2 separate regions of the Homo sapiens genome follow, and region 2 is linked to region 1. Evidence: fine-mapped expression QTL. A gene starts in region 1. The other region holds a variant in brackets. All regions are shown on one strand. Distances are between the middles of the regions. Region 1 holds the start of WDR64 (WD repeat domain 64). Region 2 overlaps WDR64 (WD repeat domain 64).

Region 1 (2,924 bases):
GAATTTGGGTAACTTGGGCAAATGATTTATCTTCAGCTCCCATTTTTTCCACAAATAAAATGAACATAATGACATTGATTAACATGACTATAAATTATTAAATACTATTCAATTAATACCAGCTTGGGTTTGAACACCCAAAGTCAAGATTTTCACTTACAAATTACTATGCAGCCTGGCACACTCAGAGGCTGGCTATACTATCCCTTTAGCAATTATATGGGCTCTGCTCCTTTCATTGCAACAGCAGGGTTTGTTCTGTTAGTCTTTCACTCTGCCATGTAGCTTTATTTTTCACAGCTGTCCTCAATACGCCAAAGCTGTACACTACACCACTCCCCTTGAATCTTGTCTATGCACTGGCATCTCTGCTGCAAATCCTCCTGTAAGACCACTGTCCACCATATTCTCCTTAGCTTGCATCCTCAAGATCATTCCTGCCTAGAGATATGGAGAGTGGCCAAGACAATGGAATCATGGTGAGGCAGGAAGCTGCACTTCTTATGAAAGTCTTTATGGTCTCATGATATCTTTAGGCTAAGAAAAAGCAGTGCTATACATTACTGAGCATCCCAGGTCAACCAGTGAGCCATCAAATGGCAGCGTCTACAGAAGAACACTGGACGTCATTTAATCCAATCCCATAGTTTTACAATTGAAGCAACTTCGGTTCAGAGAAGTAAAAAAAAAAAACAAAAACAAAAACAAAACAAAACAAAAGCTTCCTCATGTCCGCTTTGTTATTTAGGGACAGAGAAAGAACAAGAACTGAGGTCTTCATCCCCTTTCAGCACCCATTCTTTCACATTAAGCTCTGATGCTTCTCTCTGATGGCTTAAAACATTTTCCAGTTCTAACCAACAGACCCAATTGGACTATCGTGTAATCACTGATCTTACCTTCTTTATGGATAAATAAGCCTGCTCTTTCATCTCTTTTCTGGGCTGCTGTTTGTTCAACCAATTTTTCAAACCTGTTCAAAGCCTTTTTGAAATTGCTCATCTGAAGTGCCATGTTGAGACGCTTTTCCTTCCTGATATCCATAGGGACATAGGGGATCTTTTACTTCTGTACAGAAAGAATACTGCAAGTTTACCAATTTGGAAAACTTTCCAGTTGTTACAGTGCCTCCCTGCTGTCTCAGTTTTTGCCCTAGGTCTAATTCCTTTGATCTTAAAATCCCATAGTGCGGGTAGGAGTAAGAGTTGCCACTAGGATGTTAGCAGGGAGGAAAGCTGATTTAGGTCTGATGCATTTCATACAGACAAACATTTCAGTAAAAATCCTGACCTCACAATGTCATCAGTGTCCTTCATAGGGTCCTCATTGCATCATAATATCTCTGTAACATCCTACTTCCTTCATAAGGAGGAGATTGAGATATTTTTTTCCCCACAGACTGTGTGTGTGTGTGCGCGTGCACATGTGTGTGTTGTGTATACTGCTTGAGAGGGAAAAGGAATGAGTAAATAACAAGTAAGAAAACTGGGTAATACTTTCTCCCTCGTGTATCTCTTCTCACCTCAAACCTTTTGCCTTCCTCACAATACCGCGGAAAGTAAAGTTTGGCCAGGCACGGCGGCTCATTCTTGTAATCCCAGCACTTTGGGAGGCCGAGGTGGGTGGACCACCTGAGGTCAGGAGTTCAAGACCAGCCTGGCCAACATGGTGAAACCCCCGTCTCTACTAAAAATACAAAAATTAGCTGGATGTGGTGGCGGGCACCTGTGATCTCAGCTACTCAGGAGGCTGAGGCAAGAGAATCACTTGAACCTGGGAGTCAGAGGTTACAGTGAGTTGAGATCACACCACTGCACTCCAACCTGGGTGACAGAGTGAGACTTCCTCTCAAAAAAAAAAAAAAGTAATATTCACACTTATTCTTGCCACTGTACTGGATATGGAAATTCGAACTTCTAAAGATGAAATGTATTTCAGCACCTGTCATTTCTACCACAAACATTTTTAGAGGTCATAGGGAATACAAATGCTCTTCTTCCTTTGTGCATTGTCCTTCGATTGAAATAATAAAGTGAGCCAAGGATAAGGAAGGAGTGGCTTCTGATTATGAGGACAGCTTTTCAAGGTAAGAGGTCAGATGAATTAGAAGAGGCCTTTCTGCACATCTCCTTCCCAGTCATTGCAATCTCCAATCCGACTTAGTCCAAATGCTATTGACTCCGGTTTTCCAATTTTCAACTTTTTATGGGAAGGAGAAGTTGTTTAATGTTTCTCAACAATTAGTTAACTTCCTATGGCTTAGGTGAGTTAGATAAATTTCCTACCCCTTGGTAGTCCATCTTTTAAAACATTCTTCAAGAACTTGCATTCAGAGATGAAGCAGATGGCATTTCAGAGCACCTCCAATTCCAGTACTGTCTTCTTGGTGTCCACCTCTAACTATCTGTTAGGAGAGCGCAGTAAGATTTTATTTAAAGAAAAATCCCCCAACCCCATTTGTTTCTCCTCCTTTTTCCTTTAAAGCTTTCAAACCACTGTACAGTGATGTCTGGAGAACCACTCTTCCTACAATTCTAATGCATTCACCATTAATTCATCTAGGAAATATTTACTGAATACACACTTCATGCTAGAGGCTGTTTTAGACACTAAGGATACAGCAGTGAATAAAATAGCTTCTCAAGTTTATAGACTAATGCAGAAGACAGACAAACAAATAAATAATGTATCAGTGAGCAATTGTGCTACGAAGAGAGAGGAATTTTGTGTGTATTAGGGTGGGGGTAAAAATCAAAGTAAAAGAGGTAGGGAGATCAGGGAATTCCCCATTAATAGAAAGATTTCTGGGCAGAAACCTGAAAGAAGTGAGGTAGCAAGTCATGTGGATAAATGGTAGAAGGATGTTCTAGGGACAGCAGGCGTAAAGTCCTGAGATTGGTGTGTGCTTCACATATCTGAGAAAC
Region 2 (2,924 bases), 100 kb before region 1:
GGGCTTTAGCTAGTTGATGGATAAAAGTCCTTCCATTTTTTAAAGCTTTGATTTTAGGTGTTGCCCTAAGGCCTCTGTTACTTCATATCCATGTTAATTTAAAAGTATGGGCCCATAGTACTCCTACGTACTGGTGGATTCTTTGTTTACAGTTTGTGCCATTGTGGGATAGAAGGAATGAATCTCAGCAATATCTCAAGAGTGACCAGATATTGACACTGAGTAATAGCTTAGTTAGATTTATGTGCCCACCTGGTGGTATGAGTTATTGACAGTGGTTTGTTTTTTGTGTGTGTGTCTTTTTGAGACAGAGTCTTGCTCTGTCGCCCAGGCTGGAGTGCAGTGGTGCAATTTTGGCTCACTGCAGCCTTGACTTCCCAGGATCAAGCAATTCTCCCACCTCAGCTCCCCAAGTAGCTGAGACTACAGGTGTGTGACACCATGCCTGGCTAATTTTTACATTTTTTGGTAGAGATGGTGTCTCACTATGTTGCCCAGGCTGGTCTCAAACTCCTAACCTCAAGCTATCCTCCTGCCTTGGCCTCCCAAAGTGCTGAGATCACAGGCATGAGCCACTATATCCAGCCCAACAGTGGTTTTTAATAGGTTTAACCGGTTTCAATGGAACCTCCTATGACAGTGGCTCTCAGACTTTCTGAATTCACAGAGCAGCAGAATTTACAAAACACCTTTTGAAGATTGACCTAGAGTTACCAACATTCAATTTTACCAAGTGAGGACATGAGGGAGAAGGAGATGGGAAACTCTACTACCATTATTTTATGAAAAGAAAGGCTATAGTAATATAAAACAGTAGGAAAGATATAATCTTAAAATTTAAATGAAGTAAAAGTAGCTTTGTGAAAAGTTACCCTTATTTTCTACATTTCATCTCTAATTGGTGAAATCTTTTATGTTATATTGGAATTGGCTGGTAGGTCTTTAGGAATTGATTAGGAAAACAGCAGTTCATATAATGCTAAGAGCATTATTATGTTAATTGCTTCATAAAGAAAGATCATTTACTTTAAAGGACACAGAAATACAGCTATATGAGTAGATTCATAAAGCACTGTGGTTAAAAGGAAGGGAAGTAAGTGGGTCTTTAGAATTTGAATGATTTTGGGGTCAATTAATCATCTTCCTGGAACCCCCATAGTGCTTTGTTTATCATGTTAGAACAGTAATCTCTCACCAACCTATGGTTTTGTCAACAATGGCTTGGGGGCAAATTTTTCTCAAATTTGCCAAAGGTTTCATATAGGCAGAATGCAATTCTATCCCCTTAAAACTGAGATTATGAGAAGAATTGTTGTTTTCTTCTCTTGTTTTCTATGAAGTTGTATTAATAGACCAGTCAATTTACGGTCTGCCCTCTTGTTACGTGGCTAGGAAATCATGCCCAGAATATTCAGCACAGTGATGATTTGTGCCCAGAGCGGGCAGTTGCACAAGGGTTTTTCTGAGACTTGAGAAAATAAAACCAAGAACAGAAGCATAA[G/A]AGAGATATTATATTTAAGCCGTTAAGGACTGTCTGAACACATTTAAAAGTACATGATACTTTGGAGACCCTTCTCAGCTCATAATGCATCAGCGATGTTTCCTGAATAACTGAATGTGATCACTGAAGCAGGTTTTGGCTTTTTGGTTTTGTGGAGCCGGGATGGGGGTGTTTGTTTTTTTGTTTTTGTTTTTGTTTTTAAGGCAGCTGGGAATCTAGGAAGATAGAGAGATAGAGGTTGGGTTTATCTTTCCTCCATTCCACTCTCAGCTCCAACTTCCACCTGCCCACCTTCCAGTTTCTGGGCAAACAGAGAAATGGGGTTTGGAATTTAGGGAAAGAAATTTATTATAAAGCTTGTTCCCTTTTTAGTTGGAAAAAAAATGGCCTGGCTACCAGATTAGTCTGACAACCATCCCACCATACAAGCTTCTGAGACACTTTGTGAAAGCACTCACAACACTTGTAGTAGGTGGATCACTGCCCCCTTATTAAATTATGCATTTCATGGTGAAAGGGAATATCCTTCTGGAACATGGCAAATATTTGGTAACTGGTCATTGAAAAAAATGAATGAATGAAAGTATTCTAGAAAATAAGTATGTAAATCAAATTATTTTATTTCAAATAGGCAGATATAATAATAAAGTAAATAATAGTAATACACTAATAATAATAAGTAAATAAGGATACTTTCAACATTATATTATAAAGCTGCCCGCTCCAACATTAATAAAAGTTCTCCAAATACCCCTCATAAATGTACTATTGTCTACTTTAGAAGAGGTTCTTTCTCTATTTATTTTTAAAATTATTTTAATCCTTAATGAGCACCTACTCTGGGCATGGCCAAGAATACAAATATAAATAAGAGAGGTTTTCAGTTCCTACCAAGATCAATCTGCAGGTTCTAAATGCAGAACCAGAATAATCAATGTGAAAAATGCTACAGTAGAACTAAAAACAATTTTGGTGAGTGAATAGTTCCATGCTACTTTTTGCAGCCCTTAAAAAAGGAGCATTTGTGACAACAGACATTGTCTGGTAGGAAGGGCATCCTGATGAACAATGGCACTTTGTAAAGCAAAAGTCAACATTTCGTTCATTGTAGAGTGTATTATTACTAAGAAATTCCTTTCTACAGTGCCATTTTGGATTACTCAGACAAGAGAAGAGTATATTACATCAGGCAGGTTTTTCACTCCTTTTTCCCCATTCTTAGGTCATCAGTTATCTTAAGCTGGTGCTTCATGATTGCTGTGCTATACAAGACTTTTCTTTTCTGATCTTAGCTTTCAAAAGGGTAAAGGCAATGAGTTCTTGAGTTCGAGGTGATGGGGTGAGATCCGCTCAATAGCCAGGATAAATGATCTAGTCTTCATTATAAATTTGAAGAGGGCATTAGCATTCCCAGGTGGTAATA

Evidence for each region.
Region 2: its variant is fine-mapped to the expression of WDR64 in gastroesophageal junction (GTEx, PIP 0.97).

The regions. Positions count from the first base shown.
Region 1 is chr1:241,650,605-241,653,528 of GRCh38, reverse strand. WDR64 (WD repeat domain 64) reads right to left here and starts at 1,248. Exons shown (of 28, transcript NM_001367482.1): 1 at 900-1,248. The coding sequence starts at 1,044.
Region 2 is chr1:241,750,231-241,753,154 of GRCh38, reverse strand. The region is part of intron 14 of WDR64 (WD repeat domain 64); the gene reads right to left. Among named protein-coding and RNA genes, the nearest start is that of EXO1, 97 kb to the left of the region's middle. The variant G/A (reference allele first, on the strand shown) is at 1,502.